Linked DNA regions of Homo sapiens: regions 2, 3 and 4 are each linked to region 1. Evidence: fine-mapped expression QTL. A gene starts in region 1. Each other region holds a variant in brackets. All regions are shown on one strand. Distances are from middle to middle.

What was found. PIP is the estimated chance that this variant, and not a neighbour inherited with it, causes the effect.
Region 2: its variant is the best candidate, but not a certain one, in a credible set for the expression of RGL3 in whole blood (INTERVAL, PIP 0.74).
Region 3: its variant is the best candidate, but not a certain one, in a credible set for the expression of RGL3 in whole blood (TOPMed, PIP 0.62).
Region 4: its variant is the best candidate, but not a certain one, in a credible set for the expression of RGL3 in ovary (GTEx, PIP 0.60).

Annotation. Positions count from the first base shown.
Region 1 is chr19:11,416,369-11,421,514 of GRCh38, forward strand. It overlaps RGL3 (ral guanine nucleotide dissociation stimulator like 3), which reads right to left and starts at 2,946. Exons shown (of 19, transcript NM_001035223.4): 1 at 2,878-2,946; 2 at 2,303-2,416; 3 at 468-691; 4 at 246-299. The coding sequence starts at 2,910. It overlaps ODAD3 (outer dynein arm docking complex subunit 3), which reads right to left. Exons shown (of 13, transcript NM_145045.5): 12 at 4,760-4,844; 13 at 4,237-4,579. The coding sequence ends at 4,467. RefSeq lists an enhancer at 5,006-5,055.
Region 2 is chr19:11,548,908-11,554,053 of GRCh38, forward strand. CNN1 (calponin 1) reads left to right here. Exons shown (of 7, transcript NM_001299.6): 6 at 416-562; 7 at 643-1,416. The coding sequence ends at 888. ELOF1 (elongation factor 1) reads right to left here. Exons shown (of 4, transcript NM_032377.4): 3 at 5,104-5,146; 4 at 4,139-4,903. The coding sequence ends at 4,839. Among named protein-coding and RNA genes, the nearest start is that of ELOF1, 7.7 kb to the right of the region's middle. RefSeq lists enhancers at 2,686-3,657, 3,027-3,321, 3,741-3,860. The variant G/A (reference allele first, on the strand shown) is at 2,300.
Region 3 is chr19:11,337,483-11,342,628 of GRCh38, forward strand. It overlaps RAB3D (RAB3D, member RAS oncogene family), which reads right to left and starts at 2,175. Exons shown (of 5, transcript NM_004283.4): 1 at 1,987-2,175. RefSeq lists a silencer at 1,958-2,217. The variant G/A (reference allele first, on the strand shown) is at 3,090.
Region 4 is chr19:12,101,333-12,106,478 of GRCh38, forward strand. It overlaps the pseudogene ZNF788P. Among named protein-coding and RNA genes, the nearest start is that of ZNF20, 36 kb to the right of the region's middle. The variant C/T (reference allele first, on the strand shown) is at 2,154.

The DNA of each region.
Region 1 (5,146 bases):
TTGTATTTTTAGTAGAGACAGGGTTTCGCCATATTGGCCAGGATGGTCTCTAACTCCTGACCTCCAGTGATCCACCTGCCTCGGCCTCCCAAAGTGTTGGGATTACAGGCATGAGCCACCACGCCCCACCTGACTCCCAGTCTCTTATTACCCAACCTGCAATTTTCAAAACCCCAGTCCGACTGCTAACCTTTGACCTCTTGGATTTCCCTCCCCGCACTCCCCTATCTGGATGAAGGACCCACCTCAGGTTCTTGTTGAAGCTCAGATCTTGTACCGCTGTCTTCTTGATCTCTACCCTGGGAAGAGGCCCCCCAGCAGGTGAAGAAGGGGGAACCTAGAGGGGGCTTAGGAAGAGGGCTCTGGGTCTGGGAGGTGTTTCCAGGTTCCACACCTGAGGAGGTGGAGGGGGGTGCCCAGTTGGGGTTCTAGGGTGGAGAATACGGAGGTTATGGTTCGCTACTGACCCGGGAGGTGGGGGCGGTGGCATTGGTGGCAGCAGAAAGCCCAGCAGGCAGGCAGTGGGTACAAAGGTCCGGTAGGTGGCCAGGAAGGCGGGCATGAAGCTGGGGTCCTGCTCACGGTCTCCAAACACCAACTCTCCCACCAGCCGCTCCAGGCGCGCTGCCCTCAGCACCCTCACCTTGCTGGTTCGATAGTGGAGGAAGGTATTGGCAATGGGGCTGGGAGCCTGCAGGAGGGGAGAGGTGGCCATGAGAGAGCAGGAGTGGTCCTCACAGCACCCCTTCTCTAGTCACATTCATCACTAGCACCACTCTTTTTTTTTTTGTTTTTTTTTTTGAGACAGAGTCTCACTCTGTTGCCCAGGCTGGAGTGCAGTGGCACGATCTTGGGTCACTTCAACTTCTGCCTCCTGGGTTCAAGCAATCCTCCTTCCTCAGCCTCCAAGTAGCTGAAACTACAGGCGCACACCACCAAGCCCAGCTAATTTTTGTATTTTTGTAGAGATAGGGTTTCACCATGTTGGTCAGACTGGTCTCGAACTCCTGACCTCAAGTAATCTGCCCCCCTTGGCCTCCCAAAGTCTCCCAAAGGGCTAGGATTACAGGCGTGAACCACCGTGCCCAGCCCCTAGCACCACTTTTTTTTTTTTTTTTTTGAGACAGAATCTCACTCTGTCACCTAGGCTGGAGTTCAGTGGCGTGATCTTGGCTCACTGCAACCTCCGCCTCCTGGGTTCAAGCAATTCTCTGCCTCAGCCTCCCAAGTATCTGGGATTACAGGCACCCGCCACCAAGCCCAGCTAGTTTTTTCGTATTTTTAGTAGAGACGGTGTTTCACCGTCTTGGCCAGGTTGGTCTTGAACTCCTGACCTGATGATCCACTTGCCTCGGCCTCCCAAAGTGCTGGGATTACAGGCGTGAGCCACCTCGCCCCGCCTGTAGCACCATTCTTTCATGTGATTCCTCTGTCTCCCGGCTTCTTGGAGTTATTGTTTTGGTTTGTTTTTTTTAGAAACAGGTCTTGTTTTGTTGCCCAGGCTGGGGTGCAGTGGCACAATCATAGCTCACTGCAGCCTCCAAGTCCTAGACTCAAGCGGTCCCTCTGCCCCAGCCTCCTGAGTAGCTGGGACCACTGCTGGGCATCATCACGCACAGCTAGTTTTTTAATTTTTATTTTTATTAGAGAGAATCTTGCTGTGTTGTCCAGGCTGGTCTCCAATTCCTGGCCTTCTGCCTTGGTCTCTCGAAGCGCAGGGATTATAGGTGTGTGCCCCACTCCCTGCCCGCTTGAAGTTATTGTTCCTCCCCATCCACAAATAGCTCCTGCAACTTGCCCTGGAAACCCTCCCTCTCCCATGCCCTGTCCCCTACTCCCTCTCCCGTCCCCTCCCCCTCCCGTCCCCTCCCCCCACCCCCCCGCCCCCGCCCCACACACTCTTTTCCACCCAGGGCTTCCCTCAGCCCTCCTGTCGCGCTTCACTGGCTGCCCCATCCGCCCTCACCTAGCCACTTCTAAACCAACCCCATTCCACCTTCCAGCCCCGGCCCTCTAAACCTGCCTTTCCCAACTCTGCCGTCCAGTTCTGTCCTTACCAAGTTGTCCCTAGGCTCCTCTCGGGAACTGCGCGGCCATCGCCTGGCCCCACCCCATTCCCTGGATCTCCCCCCACTTACCTGGCCGCCCCCAGTCCCCTTTCTACCTGGTCGCCTCATCTGGTCGCCTCCGAGCCCCTCCCTTCCTTCCGCCCACTGCACCTGGCGGCCTGTGCTCGGCTCTCCAGCTCCGCCCTCAACTGGTCGCTTCCGGCCCCGCGCCACCCACCAAACCCCCTCCTCACCTGGCTGCCCCCGGGGCCCTCCGCCGGGCTCCTGCGCTGACTGCGCTGCCGCCGCAGGGAGACACTGTACACCGCGCCGTCCTCGGTCTCTTCACCCCAGTCCTGCAGCGGTGCCTGGACGCACAGGCGGACTCAGGGCACCAAAGGGGCACAGGTCCTGGGGCCTCAGCCTCCTTGGCCGCTCGGACTCGGGCCGAGTCCTCCTGCTGCATCCCCACGCCCCTTCCCGGCCAGAAGCTGCGAGACTAGGGCTGGGGTCCCAGGCTAGTCCCCTCCTCGCTGCGGGTCCCCTCCTCCCAGGTCCTGAGGACATGGGGTGGCATTTGGGGATGTCCCAGGGCCCAGTCTAATAGAACCTGTCTCTAGCTCTTTCTGCCGACTGCGCTCAGAGACTCGCGCCCCCATCCCTAAGAGGAACCAGTCGCTTCACTGGGTCAAGGGCCGCGAGTCCCCAGGAGGGGACTCCAGGGCAAGTTCAGATTGGGAGCAGATACCGTCCGACGGGCGGGCGCTTGGAGTTTCTGGACCTGCGGGTCACCAGGGATGCGGGGTCCGGGGATCCCTTGTCCCCTTACCAGGGCCAGCTCTTTGCCTGCTGTGCGCTCCATGGCCGGCGCCCGTCCCTCTCAGTGGCGCCGCTGAGTGAGGCGGAAGGGCCGGCGGGTGGCGGGTGGCGGGCGGCGGGCAGTGGCCGGGCGCTGAGGCCAGAGGGGCGGAGCGGCCGAGCTGCTGGGGCGGGGCGGGGCAGGGCAGGCCGGACCCAGCCTCTGGGTGCCTCCAGCCGGACCCAGCGCCAGCCCAGGAGAGGTCCTGGCTCTTCCGCTGGGTGCCTATCAATCTGTCCCCAGAAGAAAGGACATATCTGTCCCCAAGGGGTCTTTTTTGTATCCCCAGATGTGGGGGAGCTCCTGTGTGGGGGCATGTGTGTGTCCCCAGACCAGAGTCCTCTGTCCTCCAGTGGAAGGGGCTAGCTTGATCAAGTGTGGGGGCATCTTCCACTTTTTATTATTATTGCTATTATTTTGAGATGGAGTCTCGTTCTGTCACCCATGCTGGAGTACAGTGGCTTGATCTTAACTCACTGCAACCTCCGCCTCCCAGATTCAAAGGATTCTTGTGCCTCAGCCTCCCAAGTAGCTAGGATTACAGGTGCCGCCACCATGCTCAGCTAATTTTTGTATTTTTTGTAGAGGCGGGGTTTTGCCATACTTGCCAGGCTGGTCTCAAACTCCTGGCCTCAAGAGATTCGCCCACCTCAGCCTCCCAAAATGCTGGGATTACAGGCATGAACCACGGCGCCCAGCCTTATTATTTTTTAGAGACAGGGTCTCACTCCTGTTGCCAAGGCTGCAGTGCAGTGGCTTGATCTTGGCTCACTGCAATCTCCGCCTCCTGGGTTCAATCCATTCTCCTGCCTCAGTCTCCCAAGTAGCTGGGACTACAGGCATATGCCACCATGCTCAGCTTTTTTTTTTTTTTTTTTTTTTTTTTTTTTTTTTTTGGTAAAAACTGGTTTTCACCATGTTGCCCAGGCTAGTCTGGAACCCCTGGGCTCAAGCGACACACCCAGCTCAGCCTCCCAAAGTGCTGGGAATATAGGTATGAATGAGCCACTGCACCCCGCCCTTATTTTATTTATTGAGACAGGGTCTGGCTCTGTGGCCCAGGCTGGAGTGCAGTAGCACGATCATAGCTCACTGCAGCCTGGAGCTCCTGGACTCAAGTGATCCTCCCAACTCAGCCTCCCAAAATACTGGGATTACAGGCATAAAACCACTACATCGGGCCATCTCCCATTTTTAAGCTCCATCTGCGTCACTAGCTGATGGGAGTCATCATGACCCAGGTTGGAGGAGGCAGTCTGTGGCCCTGGGTTTTCAGGGACAGCCGTCTCTTGGGTGGTGCAGGGTCAAAAACAGATGAATACCCAGGGGCATGGTCGGTAACATTTATTGCGCAACTCTGAGGCCGGGGCGGACCCAGCTGGGGAGATTTACTGTGGGAACGTCTGGCCCGGCCCCTTCCTCCCCTCCGGGCGCCGCTGGCCGCCTCCGTTCCCGGTCCGGGCCGCGTTCAGCCCCTGAAGGGGCCCCGTGGGGCCTGCGCTAGACCCGGAGGGATCGGGGGCTCCGAAGGGGGCCGCCTGGTGGGTGTCAGGACGAGTCTAGGACCTCCGAGAGCGACGGTGCTTCTTGTGACTTTCGATTAATTTCTGGGAACGGATCTTGAGTGATGCGCGGGTCACTACCTCGTTGTCCTCCTCCTCACTCTCTTCGTCTAAGGGGGGTGGGGGGATGAGCAGGGAGCGATGTGGGATCCAGGTCCCCATCCCTGGCTCCCCTTCCCTTTACCACCCCACTCCACCCCCACCTTGGCCCTGAACAGGGTATCTGACAACCTCCTGCTACCCAGCTTGGGGCCCCAACCGCACCCCTTCATCCCCCCACCCATACTGACCAAAAAACTTGTCCTTGGAAGTGGCAAGGGGCAGGGCGATGCGGGTGTTGTATTCGGGCAGCCTTCCCTCTAAGCTGGCGAGGAACTAAGCGGGGATGGGAAGCGAGAGAGGAAGGTGGGCGGGGCCAGGGGCCACCGAGAAGTCACGTTCCCCCTCCTCCCTACCCCATTCCGAGATATGCCCTAGTTCCAACTGGAGACCACTGCCCACTCCCATCCCTCCTTAAGCAGGCACCTTGATACCCAGCTTCACCCCCTCATCACTCAGGTCCGCCCCTGGTCTCTGGGGCCCTGCCACTAGGCCTCTCCCCATCCGGATACCCCAGCCGCGTCCTCTAGCCTCACAGGACCCGCCTGCACCTCTTCTGGTTTCTTCCCTCGTGGCTC
Region 2 (5,146 bases), 130 kb after region 1:
CAGGCACAGTGGCTCACCCCTGTAATCCCAGCACTTTGGGAGGGTGAGGTGGGTGGATCACCTGAGGTCAGGAGTTCGAGACCAGCGTGGCCAACATGGTGAAACCCCATTTCTACTAAAAATACAAAAAATTATCCGGGCATGGTGATGCCCACCTGTGATCCCAGCTACTCCGGAGGCTGAGGCAGGAGAATTGCTTGAATGTGCAAGATGGAGATTTCAGTGAGCTGAGATCATGTCACTGCACTCCAGCCTGGGCAACAGAGCAAGACTCCGTCTCAAAAAAAAATAAATAAAATAAAATAAAAATTGAAAAAAATGATAAAGCGGCGCCTCATCCTCTCCCATCAGCTATGCCTCATGGCCCATGATGAGGTCTGTAATTATTGGTGTGATTCTCCTTCTGGCTTCCTAGATGGGCACCAACAAGTTTGCCAGCCAGCAGGGCATGACGGCCTATGGCACCCGGCGCCACCTCTACGACCCCAAGCTGGGCACAGACCAGCCTCTGGACCAGGCGACCATCAGCCTGCAGATGGGCACCAACAAAGGAGCCAGCCAGGTGAGTGGGGGCCCCCGGGACACGCCGTCAAGGCCCAGGACCCTGGCCACCCCACGGCCTGACCACACCACCCTTCGCAGGCTGGCATGACTGCGCCAGGGACCAAGCGGCAGATCTTCGAGCCGGGGCTGGGCATGGAGCACTGCGACACGCTCAATGTCAGCCTGCAGATGGGCAGCAACAAGGGCGCCTCGCAGCGGGGCATGACGGTGTATGGGCTGCCACGCCAGGTCTACGACCCCAAGTACTGTCTGACTCCCGAGTACCCAGAGCTGGGTGAGCCCGCCCACAACCACCACGCACACAACTACTACAATTCCGCCTAGGGCCACAAGGCCTTCCCTGTTTTCCCCCCAAGGGAGGCTGCTGCTGCTCTTGGCTGGACCCAGCCAGGCCCAGCCGACCCCCTCTCCCTGCATGGCATCCTCCAGCCCCTGTAGAACTCAACCTCTACAGGGTTAGAGTTTGGAGAGAGCAGACTGGCGGGGGGCCCATTGGGGGGAAGGGGACCCTCCGCTCTGTAGTGCTACAGGGTCCAACATAGAGCCGGGTGTCCCCAACAGCGCCCAAAGGACGCACTGAGCAACGCTATTCCAGCTGTCCCCCCACTCCCTCACAAGTGGGTACCCCCAGGACCAGAAGCTCCCCCAGCAAAGCCCCCAGAGCCCAGGCTCGGCCTGCCCCCACCCCATTCCCGCAGTGGGAGCAAACTGCATGCCCAGAGACCCAGCGGACACACGCGGTTTGGTTTGCAGCGACTGGCATACTATGTGGATGTGACAGTGGCGTTTGTAATGAGAGCACTTTCTTTTTTTTCTATTTCACTGGAGCACAATAAATGGCTGTAAAATCTCCTGAGGCCTCAGAGCTGCTCTGTTTTAGATATGCGCCATATCCCGCACACACATCTGCACGGACACACATGCCCACATGCACCCTAAGACGTACATACACACTCACACGCACCCTAAGACACACACCTCACTGTAGCCACTCAGCTAGACACAGGACAGGCACCCCATCACACTCACATGCAAAGTCCACACACACACACACACTCCCCCCTTTCACACACAGATATGCACACACAGGCAGTACACACTCCCTACGACATGTAAAAAAGGCATAGCCAGCCGGGCACAGTGGCTCATGCCGGTAATCCCAGCACTTTGGGAGGCTGAGATGGGAGGATCACTTGAGGTCAGGAGTTCGAGACCAGACTGGCCAACATGGTGAAACCTTGTTTCTACTAAAAATACAAAAATTAGCAGGGTGTGGTGGCGCATGCCTGTAGTCCCGGCTACTTGGGAGGCTGAGGTAGGAGAATCACTTGAGCCCTGGAGATCTAGGCTGTAGTGAGCTGAGATGGCGCCACTGCATTCCAGCCTGGGCAACAGAGCAAGACTCCATCTCAAAAAAAAAAAAAAAAAAAAAAGGCACAGCCAGAGAGCCAATGCGCGCGCGCGTGCACACACACACACACACACACACACACACACACACACGACCCACACTGCTCTCCCAGAGGCTTGTGGATGGTGGTGACAAAGAGCCTGAGTACTGGGACAGGCTAAATGGCATGTGAATCACAGAGCAGCTGCCTGGATGACCTCGGGCAATCACTTTCCCTCCCTAGACCTGTTTTCCCATCAAAATAATGGGGACAGTAAGCCTCTTGTGGTCATGAAATGACACCCCCAGATGGGGTGATGTTCTACATGTTTAATCGCTGGTAAA[G/A]ACCAGGCATCAATAGAGAAAGGATGACAAGTAGGGGTCCTGGTGGGCCCTGTGGGCAGGGTGAACCCTTTAGCCCCAGACTGTGGGGAGGGGAAAGGGGACAGGGAGAGGGGCACTTCTGAGCCAAGGCAATGGCCCTTTACTGACTGGCACAGGGCACCATAGGGCACGGTTAATTCTGTGCGCCCCGCCCGCTCTCAGCCGTCTTAAGGCTGAGCCTGCCAACCCGGGACTCTAAAAGGCTGTGTCCAGGGCCTCAACCTCCTCACATTTCAGAGGGGACCCTGTTATCCCCGGGAGGAGGGAGAGGTCCCCAACCATCAGGATTCCAAGGAGGAGAGGAGGCAGAGAAGCGAGGAGCGCGGCACGGAGCTGTCTTCTCCCCAGGGAGGGCAGGAGTTGAGGCTGGAACGTGGAGACCTGCGGAGGCAGACACCAGAAGACCCGCGCACAGACGCACGCAGCCCCTGGGGCCTCGTAAACCGGATTCCAGGCGCTTTTGGCCTGGCTACCGCAAGTCCTGCTCCCCCTGGGCCGGCGCGGGGAAGCTATGCTGAGGAGGATCCGGGCCTGGCCCAGGGCCCTGCCTCCTCGGGAAAACAGCACCATATTAGCACTTAGCCTGTGAGGCTGGGGTGGGCGGGCGGCAGGAAGGGCCTCGGGTGCCAGAGGAATGAGCCCCCTTTTTGCTGGATCCCAGAGGGCCATCACCCTAAACCTAGGTGCCTGTCCACCACTCTGCGCATGTGTGCCGGCTCCTGCCAGGGCTAGCAGACCTTACCTGGGATCTTGGAGGTGGCGGGATAACCAGGGAAGACATGTCATGGCAGAGTGGGCCTGAGGGGGTGCACAGGCCAGACCCAGCAGCCCAGTCTGGCAGCCAGGGCTTCCGGGCCAGCTCAATGTCTCCCCCCGCTGTTCACATCCGTCAGTGCCCTGGGTGGGCCCCAGAGCCGCTCAAACCATGCCTGGCACTTCCATCCTCAGCATGGCTCCGGGAAGAAGGTGCTTTCATCCCCTGCACTGTAGCAACGAGGACTCTGAAGCACAGGTCACCTGCCACCCGGGCTCATGAGGCCAGGTGGAGGGTCTGGCACTGCCCCAGGTTGCTGGGTGTTGTGGTCCTTGTCACCGGTGCGACCAGCTAAGGGGACATCAGCCCTCAGGTGCTCCCCATCGGCCACACACATCCCGCCCCAACACCAGCCTTCTGAGAGTCCTCACCACCCTTGAATAAAGGCCCCTTTCATGTTTCCCTCCCGTGTCCCTCTTCCACTCACTACCTCCAGAACGGCCTGTAAGCTGTTCCCTCAGCCTGGACTCTGGGCTCACAAGAAGTCAGACTGTAAGCTGTGGAGCCTCGTTTCCTGGGTTCAAATCCCCCCTGTGCCACTTTCTGGCTGTAGGGTCTTGGGCCAGTGACCTCCTTCACCTCTAGCCTCTGTTTCCTCATCTTTGAACTTGGGGTTAGCTTGGCACCTGCCCCACAAAGTGGCTGTCAGGACACTGGGGCGACGCAGGAAGGCCAGAGGTCAGCGTCTGGCTAGAGGTGGCCCTACGGTGTCACTGTCTCAGCCTGCCCCTCCCAGAAGCCTCCTCTGACCACCTGTTCTGTCTCACCTCCCCCATTTCCTATTGTGACTGCTGTAAACACCTGGCCAGATGTCTGCCTGCTCCACCACCCTGAATGCTTACTGACTGAATAAAACGCTGGGTGGTTTGAAGGGCTGGTCACATGGGCCACCAGGCCACCTCCCGAACGTCAGAGCCTCAGGTCCCCTCTCCTTCTTCTGGTGACCAGGCAGACGCAGAACCCAAGACATCACGGACAGCAAGGGATGTGCGCTGGCTGCTTTATTTAAGGGCTTGTGATTGACAGCTGTCCCCATCCCAGCCCTTGCTTCCTCTACAAAAGCAACTGAACATGAAACGGGCTTCCTGGTTACCATGGGGAGGGGGGCGGCTCCCTGTCAGGGCCCAGCCCAGGGACCTGGGGAACGGCGGCTTTGAATCCCCGGCCACGGGCACTAGAAGGTGGAGAAGGAGAGCGGGAAGTCCAGTTGAGATGGGCACGGTGCTGGTGAGGAGGCTGGAGAGGTCCTGTTCCAGCCTCTAGTGGGCTTCCCTTGTCCAGGATGTCAGGAAACAGTCCCCCAATTCCGCCGGGGGGAGCCAGAGCCCCAAGGCTGGGGGGCCAGGGGCTGCAGGGAACACAGCAAAGGCTTTCGGAGCCAAGTGAGATCAGTTCAGGCCCCTCAGGCCCAGGAACCCGACACCACCGCGTACCTGTGAGCACACACTCACGGCCACCCCAGTGACACGTGCAGCCACACACACCCACACTCACTCACACCCACACCCACACGCACACCCACTACACACACACACACACACACACACACACACACACACACACACACACACACGGCTGTGACAGCCCAGGACCCACACCCTGGACCCCTGGAATGTCTCTGGACCAGAACCGAACAGCTGGATCCACAGTACGCGGGGCTGCTCAGGGGGCGGGTCCTCTGTGTCGCTACTGATTGGCCGCCTCGCAGGCGTCTATCCAATCACTGTACACATCCACGGGTTCTGACAGATCTGGGCCACTTAGGTCAAGGGCGATCATTGGCATTGGAACCCTGCCCTGCATCTTCTCACCCCACAGAAATCACTAGGTGGCACCTGTTCCTCTGGACGGCTTTGGCCCTGCACCAGGGCACACAGTGGGCCAGATGAGCAGGGTCCGGACTCCAGCCCCCTCCCCACCCTCTGGAAAAAGCCCAGGTTTCCAAGGATACACGTTATGGGCGTCTGGAATTCCTCTAGGCACACGGTACAAGA
Region 3 (5,146 bases), 79 kb before region 1:
GAACAGCTCCTGTGAATGCACCAGGCCTGGATTCAAATCTCAGCTCGGTCACTCGGAGACCAAGTGATGCTGGATGCATCGCTTGCCCCCTCTAGACCTCAGTGTCCTCTTCTAAAAAATGGGATGTTTGTCACAGTCCCTTCCTGAAAGAGTAGTTGGTTGTGAGCCTAAAATGAGTTTCTTTCTTTCTTTTTTTTTTTTTTTAGAGACAAGATCTCGCTCTGTTGCCTGAGGCTGGAGCGCAGTGGCGTGATCATAGCTCACTGCAGTCTTGACCTCCTGGGCTCGAGTGATCCTCCTGCCTCAGCCTCCCAAGTAGCTGGGACTACAGACATGCCACCACATCAGGCTAATTTAAAAAAAATTTTTTTGTAGAGATGGGGTCTCATTATGTTGCCCATGCTGGTTTCAAACTCCTCTGCTCAAGCAATCCTCCTGCCTCAGCCTTCCAATGTGCTAGGATTACAGGCATGAGCCACCACGCCCGACCTAAAATGTGTTTCTTTATTCATTCAACAAATGCTTACTCTCTGCCGGGCCCTGTTCTCTGTGGAAATGCAGCTGTGAATAGGACAAGAAAAAGTCCATCCTCGGGTGGTCACGTTCCTTCCAGTGGGAAGGTATTAACACACGTAACGGTCATTAGACAGTGCCTGGTATAGAGCTGGGGCACAAAAAATGTGACTGCTGTTTAATCTTCACACCCTGTGGCGTAACTGAGTCTGTATTGGGGTGGAGGGTGGGGAGACCTTTCCTATCTGGAAACCCAGAGGCCTAGCAAAGGGTTCAAGTGCAAGGCCGAGGGTAAGGGGCTCTGGCCCCTGCAGAACTAGATTCTGGAGAAGGCACAGGTGTGGACTTCGCCCCAGCGTGTGCAGCCGGTGTGGCCCAGGTGTAAGCTGGGGTGGGGTGGGGGGAGGACCTGCCAGCTGGATAAGCTGGATAGAGCCCCTGATTAAGGCTTGGGTGTTGACTTTGGCAGGTGTCAGCCACTGGGGCGCCTGCCGCCCACCAACTCATGCCAAATACAACCCCTTCTCTGAGTTCCAAGGGGAAGGGGTTTTCTATGTACAGGGCCCAGGTTTAGAGTCCAGTTCTACCCCCTAAATGGGTACTGCTATTTTCTATTTGTCAAAGGGGCCAGGCCTGTCTCCTTCTGCCCAAGGCTGACTCACTCCAGCCCCAGTCCACGGAGGCAGGAGTGAGAGTCCTTATACCCAAGGAAACGATCCCAGCCACTTAATTAACACAACCCCACCACCACGACCACTGCCGCCCACCCTTGGTCTTTCCAGGCAATCTGTCCCACGGCTAGGCTCCTTGAATCTGCCCACACTCCAACATGCTGCTTCATCCGAGTCCAAGGTGCTCCCTCAACCCTCATAACCTCTCCCAGGCCTCAGTTTCCCCAGCTGTCTATGGCCGCTGCGGGAACCGCACGGAGAGGCTGCAGAAGGCCTGGATGCAGGCGGGGCAGAGGCAGAGACAGCCCTGGCACAGCTATTTCTCAACTGCCTTTGGGGCTTTTTTCCATTTTAAACCAGGACCCAACCGGCCCCACCCCGTGTTCCAGGAGAACGAGTTTAAGGAGGGGAAGAGAAGAGGCAGGAAACCTTTCCCCACGCAGGGCAGGGCCGCAAGGCTGGGGCCCCCACCTCCCCCAGCCTTAGCTCACCTGTGTCAGTCGGTCCCGCCTCTTTCTAACCATCTGCCGACCCTCCCTCAAGCCTGGCCCCGGAGGGCTCGCCTCTGTTCCCCTTCACTAGATTTGGGGCGCCCCAGCCAATGCAGGTGGACTCAGGAGTTTCCCCCATCACCATATGGTCCCAACGCCTGTCCCCAGCTGGGCTCTCTGCCCCGCCCGCGCCCCATCAGCGCTTCCCAAGTGCCCAGCTGGGTGGGGGCGAGGGCAGAGGCGTTCCCCGCAGCCCCGCCTTTGTTCCCCAGACCCCCTACCTTCCTCCCAAACCCCCGTACCCCACAGACCTGCTCGGATGCGGAGGGGCCGGGTGGGCTGCGCTCCTTCCCAGGGGTGACCTCGCGTAGGGGGCGCCGCCTGCAGGGGTTCCGCCTGTGAACTCGCTGCGGCTTGGCCCTGGCCGCGACCCCGACCCCGCAGCCGCAGAAGCCAGCAGCCTGCAGCCACCCGGATCCCGCGCGGGCTCCGCCCAGAAGGCGGAGGAAGGGCCGTTCCCGGAGCGGGGGATGGGGGAGGACGAAGAGGGGCCGAGTCTTGGGCGGGGCTTTCAGAGAGCGGGTGGGAGGGGCTGGAAGCTGCACCAAGCGTCTAGAGCCCGTCCTAGCCAAGCAACATCTCATTTTCCCAGCTGCTTGTAAAGAGCTTCTACTATACGCACGGCTGTTAAAAGCATAGAGTCTTGGGCCTGGTTCGAGTCCCAGCTCCACCACTTTCTAGTCTTGTGGCTTTGGACGCGTTACTTAACCTCTTTGAGCCTCAGTTTCCCCATCCGTCAAGTAGCTCATAGCGAGAGTACCCAACCTCACAGAGTTGTGGGAGGATTCTGATCTGAGTTAGTGTTTGTCAAGTGCAGTGCCGGCCTTAAAGTAGGCTAGGCCAGGCGCGGTGGCCTGTAATTACAGCAGTTTGGGAGGCCGAGGCAGGAGAATCACTTGAGGCCAGGAGTTTGAGACCAGCTTGGGCATCGTAAGGAGACCTCATCTCTACTAAAAATAACAAAAATTAGCCAGGTGTGGTGGCGTGCGTCTGTAACCCCAGCTACTTGGGAGGCTGAGGCAGGAGGATTGCTGGAGACATCGAGGCTGCAGTGAGCCTTGATTGCACCACAGCACTCCAGCCTGGGCAACAGAGCAAGACCCTGTTTCAAATAAATAAAAATAAACGAGAGCTGGGCGCGGTGGCTTATGCCTGTAATCCCAGTACTTTGGGAGGCCAAGGCAGGCGGATCACTTGAGGTCAGGAATTTAAGACCAGCCTGGCCAACATGGTGAAACCTCATCTCTACTAAAAAAAAAAAAAAAAAAATACAAATATTAGGGGCTGGGCACGGTGGCTCACACCTGTAATCTCAGCACTTTGGGAGGCCGAGGTGGGCAGATCACCTGAGGTC[G/A]GGAGTTCGAGACTAGCCTGGCCAACGTGAAGAAACCCTGTCTCTACTAAAAAATACAAAATTAGCCAGGCGTGGTGACGCATGCCTGTAATCCCAGTTACTCTGGAAGCTGAGGCAGGAGAATTGCTTGAACCCGGAAGGCGGAGGTTGCAGTGAGCCGAGATCACGCCACTGCACTCCAGCCTGGGCAAAAAGAGCGAAACTCTGTCTCAAATAAATAAATAAATATACAAAAATTAGCCGAGCATGGTGGTGCACACCTGTAATCCCAACTACTTGGGAGGCTGAGGCAGGAGAATCGCTTGAACCCAGGAGGTGGAGGTTGCAGTGAGCCGAGATCGCGCCACTGCACTCCAGCCTAGACGATGGAGTGAGACTCTGTCTCAAAAAAAAAAAAAAAAAAATTAAAAAATAAATGAGGCTGGGCACAGTGTCTGATGCCTGTAATCCCAGCCCTTTGGGAGGCTGAGGCAGGAGGATTCCTTGAGCTCAGGAGTTCAAGGCCAGCCTAGGCAACATAGAGATCCCAACTCTACAAAAAATTTTTTTGAAAATTAGCTGGCCACAAAAAAAAAAAAAAAAAAAAAAAGAAAAAGAAAAAAAGAAAAAAGAAAAAAAAATTAGCTGACCATGGGGGCACATACATGTAGTCTTAGCTACTCCGGAGGCTGAGGCAGGGGGATTGCTTGAGCCTGGGAGAGAGAGAGGCTTCAGTAGGTTATGACTGTGCCACTGCACTCCAGCCTAGGTGACAGGGCAAGACTTTATCTCTAAATAAAGAAAGTTAAAGTGGGTTGGATCCCTTTGTGAAATACCCAGGTTTTGCTGGTGTTGGAATCCCAGCAATTCCACCTTACTCAATTTGCTGAACTTCTCTGAGCCCCCACTGCCTCGTGGGAACAAAAGTAGCTGCCTCAAGAGCTGCCACGTGGATGAATGAGGATGAAGTGCATTAGTTAGGAAGGGCTGGGTTATGCTTAGTAACAAGCACTCCCAAAGACTTCACGGCCCCAACAGCTAAGGTTTGGTTCCCATGATGGTTGTTTTGTGAAGTGAAAATGCAGCAAATTATGTACTGTTTTGTAATACTTCTCCTTGGAAGGGACACATGCCACCTCTGCTCACATTTCATTGGCCAAAGCAAGTCACATGGCCACCCCCAATGTCAGTAGGGTGGGAAATATGATTGTCCTCTAGGATCAGAACCATCTGGGCCTGGTGGCTGGCGCCCGTAGTCCGAGCTACTTTGGAGGCTGAGGTGGGAGGATTGCTTGAGTCCAGGAGTTGGAGGCTGCAATGAGCTATCATCACGCCACTTCACTCCAGCTTGGGTGACAGAGCAAGACCCTGTCAAAAACAAGACAAAACAGGCTGGGCGTGGTGGCTCACGCCTGTAATCCCAGCACTTTGGGAGGCCGAAGCGAGCAGATGGCCTCAGGTCGGGAATTCAAGGCCAGCCTGGCCAGCACAGTGAAACTCCGTCTCTACTAAAAATAACAAAAATTAGATGGGCGTGGTGGCAGGTGTCTGTAATCCCAGCTACTCAGGAAGCTGAGGCAGAATAATCGCTTGAACCCGGGAGGCGGAGATTGCAGTGAGCCAAGGTCATGCCATTGCACTCCAGCCTGGGCAACAGAGCAAGACTCTGTCTCAAAAAAAAAAAAAAAAAAAAAGACAAAACAGCCAGGCATGGTGGCTCATGCCTGTAATCCTAGCACTTTGAGAGGCCAAGGCGGGTGGATCACCTGAGGTCGGGAGTTCAAGACCAGCCTGACCAACATGGAGAAACCCTGTCTCTAGTAAAAATACAAAAAATTAGCCAGGCATGGTGGCGGATGCCTGTAATCCCATCTACTCAGGAGGCTGAGGCAGGAGAATCGCTTGAACCCAGAGGCAGAGGTTGTAGGGAGCTGAGATCGCACCACTGCACTCCAGCCTGGACAACAAGAGTGAAACTCCGTCTCAAAACAGAACAAAACAAAACAAAACAAAACAAATAATACATGATATGTCAGTGGTTAACAACATGTCTGGTATACAGCAGGTGCTCAATAAAT
Region 4 (5,146 bases), 680 kb after region 1:
CCTCCAGTTTCTCTTTACTTAGCGGCCATTGTTCTACCAAATTGGCTTATCTGTTAACCATTTTAAAGGTATAGGTTCTGGAGGCTTGACAATGGCCACCATCAAAAATAATACCCTAATCTTTGGCAGGAACTTTCTTTCTGCTTGAAGCAGTTCTTTCAAACCTTGCAAATTTTTTTCTAGTCCCATACCAGGGACATACCCCATTTCATGCATTGTATGTTGACTTTGAGGGCTATATAATTGTTCTGGAATTAGAACTTGTGCTCCCCATTGTCATAAATCTCTCCCCCATAAATTTACAGGTACAGAAGTTATAATTGGTTGAATAGTACCAGGTTGTCCATCAGGCCCTTCACAATGCAAAATATAACTACTTTGATATACTTTAGGGGCTTTACCAACTCCAACTATGTTAAATTGAGCAGGTTGAATTGGCCACGTGGACGGCCAGTGCTGTAGAGAAATGACTGAAATGTCTGCTCCTGTATCTACCAAACCTTTAAATTTCTTTCCCTGAATAGTTATTTTCACAGGTAGGATGTTTATCAGTAATTTGATTTACCCAATAAGCTGCTTTGCCTTGTTTATTTGTGCTTCCAAATCCTCCTGTTCGTTTAATTTCACTTTTCCCCATTTCCACATACGACACAATCAGGAGCTGTGCTATGTGCGCTCTCCTGGCTCTGCTTTCCAGGGAACAGAAGTAGATACAACAATTTGAATTTCCCATTATAATCTGAATCAGTGTCTCCTGTATGTATTTGTACGTCTTTTAAACTTAAACTAGACCTTCCTAAAAGTAATCCTATTGTCCCTGCTGGCAAGGGTCCGCAGACTCCTGTTGGGACCTTTTGCGGGGGTTCCCCAGGCAGAAGGCTCACAGCTTTTGTGCAGCATAAATCTACTGCAGCACTACTGGCTGTGGGGGGGTGGACAGACATTGTACAGGGGTGAGGGAATGGCCTGAGCTAGAAATGCCCCGGTTTAGAATGGGGCCCTCATGGCGTTTCCCGAAATCGGGTTCCCTTCTTTATCAAACTTAGGATGACATTGGTTAACCCAATGTTTTCCTTTTTTACATTTTGGACATATTTCAGAATCAGCAGTTTTCTTTTCTCCCCATCTGGCGGCCTGACTCGCTGATTTTTTTCTACATTCTTTTTTAGTATGACCATGCTTCCCACAGTTAAAACAAGCTCCAGGAAGTGGAGTATTTCCTTTATCCACTCTCAGTCCTGCCATTGCCTATGCCAACAAAGTAGCTTTATGTAGATTATCTCTGATATCATCACAGGCCTTGATAAAATCAACTAAATGTGCTTTCCCTCTGATAGGTCACAGAGCAGCCTGGCAATCGGGATTAGCATTGTCGAAAGCTAATAACTGCAACACTATATCCTGAGCAGCCAAATCTGCAATCATCTTTTTAAGAGACTCCTGTAACTGAGCTATAAAGTCAACGTATGGTTCTTTGGATCCCTGTTTTATAGCACTAAAGGAAGGGTATTGTTCTCTACCTGAAGTGATTTTTTCCCAAGCTCTAATGCACACTCCTCTAAGCTGTTCTATGGCATCATCCCGCATGACCAGTTGTGCATCTAAACCAGCCCAGCCTCCAACCCCCAAAAGTTGGTCTGCAGTTACATTAATTTGAGTTTGGGCCTGGGCATTGCGAGCAGCCTGAATGGAAGCTTCATCTGCCCACCAAATTTTAAATTTTAAGAACCGAGCAGGAGTTAGACAAGCTCGAGTAAGAGCATCCCAGTCAGTAGGTATCATCCAACTGGAAACAGCAACATTCTTTAACAGTCCCATTATAAAAGGAGAACCTGGTCCATACTGATGTATAGCTTTTTAAAATTCTTTGAGTAATTTAAAAGGAAAAGGCTCAAATGTAGCTGTAATATTTCCCTGTTGATCTTGGGGGGTGTATTCATTCTAACAGGGAACTGCCAAGCCTCTGTATCACCCTCTCCTCTAGCTTGCTGAATTCCTGCCTGAATAGAACTAAGAGTGGTCACTCGGCGCTGCTCAAACAGTCACTGGGGCAACTACTTTTCGCCCAGTGTCCTCCAGAAAAGAAAGATCTGGAGGGTCTTTTTCTTGAAAATAATAAGGAGGGGGTACAGAAGGGTAGGGATGAATCTCTC[C/T]CTCCTTTCCTGCTTTAGCTTTAACTGGCAAATAAACCTCGTCTGTAACCTCTTCTGTTACTTCATTATTCACTCATTCCTCCTCATCATCAGTGTGAAGAAGTTCCAAGGTGAAACGAACCAGACCCCATACTTGTCCCATTGTTACCCTGAGGCTTCCGAGCTCCCCTTCTTACTCACCATGGGGATTGCTTTAAGAGTACTCGGGTGTCCTCCAGCTAGTTTTCCGTTCCAACCATTGCTCTGGCGACCCTTCAACCTGCATTCAAGCCCCCATGAATGGACGCCACTTGCCAAGACCAGCTCAGTCGGGGAGACCCTAACCCAGCGGCGCTAGAGGAATTAAAGACACCACACACACCGAAATATAGAGGTGTGAAGTGGGAAATCAGGGGTCTCACAGCCTTCAGAGGTGAGAGCCCCAAACAGAGATTTACCCACATATTTATTAACAGCAAACCAGTCATTAGCATTGTTTCTATAGATATTAAATTAACTAAAAATATCCATTATGGGAAACAAAGGGATGGGCCAAATTAAAGGAATAGGTTGGGCTAGTTAACTGCAGCAGGAGCATGTCCTTAAGGCACAGATAGCTCATGCTGTTATTTGTGGCTTAAGAATGCCTTTAAGCGGTTTTCCGCCCTGGGTGGGCCAGGCGTTCCTTGCCCTCATTCCAGTAAACCCACAACCTTCCAGTGTGGGCGTTAGGGCCATTATGAACATGTTACAGTGTTGCAGAGATTTTGTTTATGGCCAGTTTTGGGGCCAGTTTATGGCCAGATTTTGGGGGGCCTGCTCCCAACATAAAGTATATTGATGTTTTTTTTATTACAGCTAGTATATATTTAAGAATGTTAGTATAGGATTTTGAATAAATTTTGTTTTTAAGAGAAGTTATAATTTAATTAGATGGGGAGGAAAGTCTTTGAAGAGGAACCTCTACTTTACTTTTTATAAAGTGATTCTCCTGCTCAGTCTCCCCAGTAGCTGGGATTACAGGCATGTGCCACCACGCCTGGCTAATTCTGTGTTTTTAGTAGAGACAGGGTTTCTCCATGTTGTTCAGGGTGGTCTCAAACTCCTTACTTCAGATGATCTGCCCACCTCAGCCTCCCAAAGTGCTGGGATTACAGGCGTGAGCCACCATGCCCAGCCTGTAGTGGTTCTTTAATGAGCAGCTTTATTGCTTTGGCAAAAGGTTGGAATAATCCATATGAGCCTATGATGTTAGGTCCCTTACAGAGTTGTATGTAACCTAAACTATTCATTCAACAAATGTTAAGATTGCTGTAGTGAGAATGGTGGGAAATAAGTAGGAGAAGGTTAATTATAAACTTATTGTTAAGAAGAAGGATTAGTTTACTTTGACTAGTACGTCTTAGTCAAAATCATTTTGAGGTTATATTTTGCTCTGAGGTCACCTCAACTAAAATTTTTAGTTCATTGGATACAATGTTAATACCTGTTAAGTTAGGTTAATTATTGGATATATGGACTAATAAATTTAAGTTCCGTAGAGTCTTCTCATCATATTTAAGTATTTCTGCCTCTTCACAGATAGGTCAATTGCACTGATTAAGAGACAGCTAAACCCTCATGTGACCAGTCTTGCAAGTCTCTGTTTCGGGAACAAATGATTATGCTATGCCTGTACAGTCAAGATACTGGCACCATTAAACATGTCACTGGGCAGGCAGTGCCAGTTTTTGGTGATGTTTTTGGTAAACAGGCAGGGTTTGGTTTTGCTGAGTTCCTTTTATTTTTTAAAATCTTTCTTTAGTGCTTGCCTTTGTTGGCTTAACAATTTGGAGAAAATAATTAGTTTATAGGTTTGCTTAGTTATATTGAGTTTTGTTAACTGTCAGTGGATCATCCAAATATGATGGTAACTATGCATTTTTATACATATTTTATTTATTTATTTATTTATTTATTTATTTGAGACGAAGTTTCACTCTTGTTGCCCAGGCTGGAGTGCAGTGGCGCCATCTTGGCTCACTGCAACCTCTGCCTCCCGGGTTCAAGCAATTCTCCTGCCTCAGCCTCCCAAGTAGCTGGGATTACAGGCATGAGCCACCATGCCCAGCTAATTATGTATTTTTACTAGAGATGGGGTTTCACCATGTTGGTCAGGCTGGTCTCGAGCACTTGACCTCAGGTGATCCGCTTGCCTCAGCCTCCCAAAGTGCTGGGATTACAGGCGTGAGACACTGTGCCCAGCCTTTATACATATTTTATAGTAGGTTGTAGAAGTTCCCTCGTATTCCTGATTATTTCTATTTTGAAGGAGTGTTGAGGTTTGTCACTTTTTTTTTGCATGTGTTTAGATTGTGGTTTTTGATGTTGATTCTGTAACTACTGTGTATTGCATAAGTTGATTTTTGAAATGTAAGCAATGTTGCTTCCATGAATTAAATTCCACTTTGTCATGGAGTACAGATGTTGTCATATATGGGTGGATTCTCTTTGCAATTATATTGCTCCGGCTTTGTGTGTTAACATTTAAAGAGATATTCATGTATAGTATTATAGTCTAGCATTATAATATGCATATATATACACATTTATATACATGCACACATAAAGTATATATAGTATATAGTCTAGTTATGATAGATAACATAAATATTATATATAACTTGTAATGTGGTATATAGCTGTTGTATATAAATGGCATTATAGTAAACAACTTAATGAATTATGACATTATAGTATATAAAATTGATATAGTTTTAGTCTCCAGTGTATAGTGGGTTTCATTTCTATGTCAGCCTGCAGAATTATTCAAATACCACATTCTCATCCTCCCACGGGAACAAAGGAAAATCTTACCCTCTTGATGCTACAGTGTGCCATTCAAAAATATTCGTGATCATGGATTTAGGAAAGATTCTATGATATGACAATACAAGCACTAGGAACAAAGAAAAAGTATGTAATTGAGACTGCATTGAAATTTTAAACTTTTTTGTGTTTCAAAGGACACCACA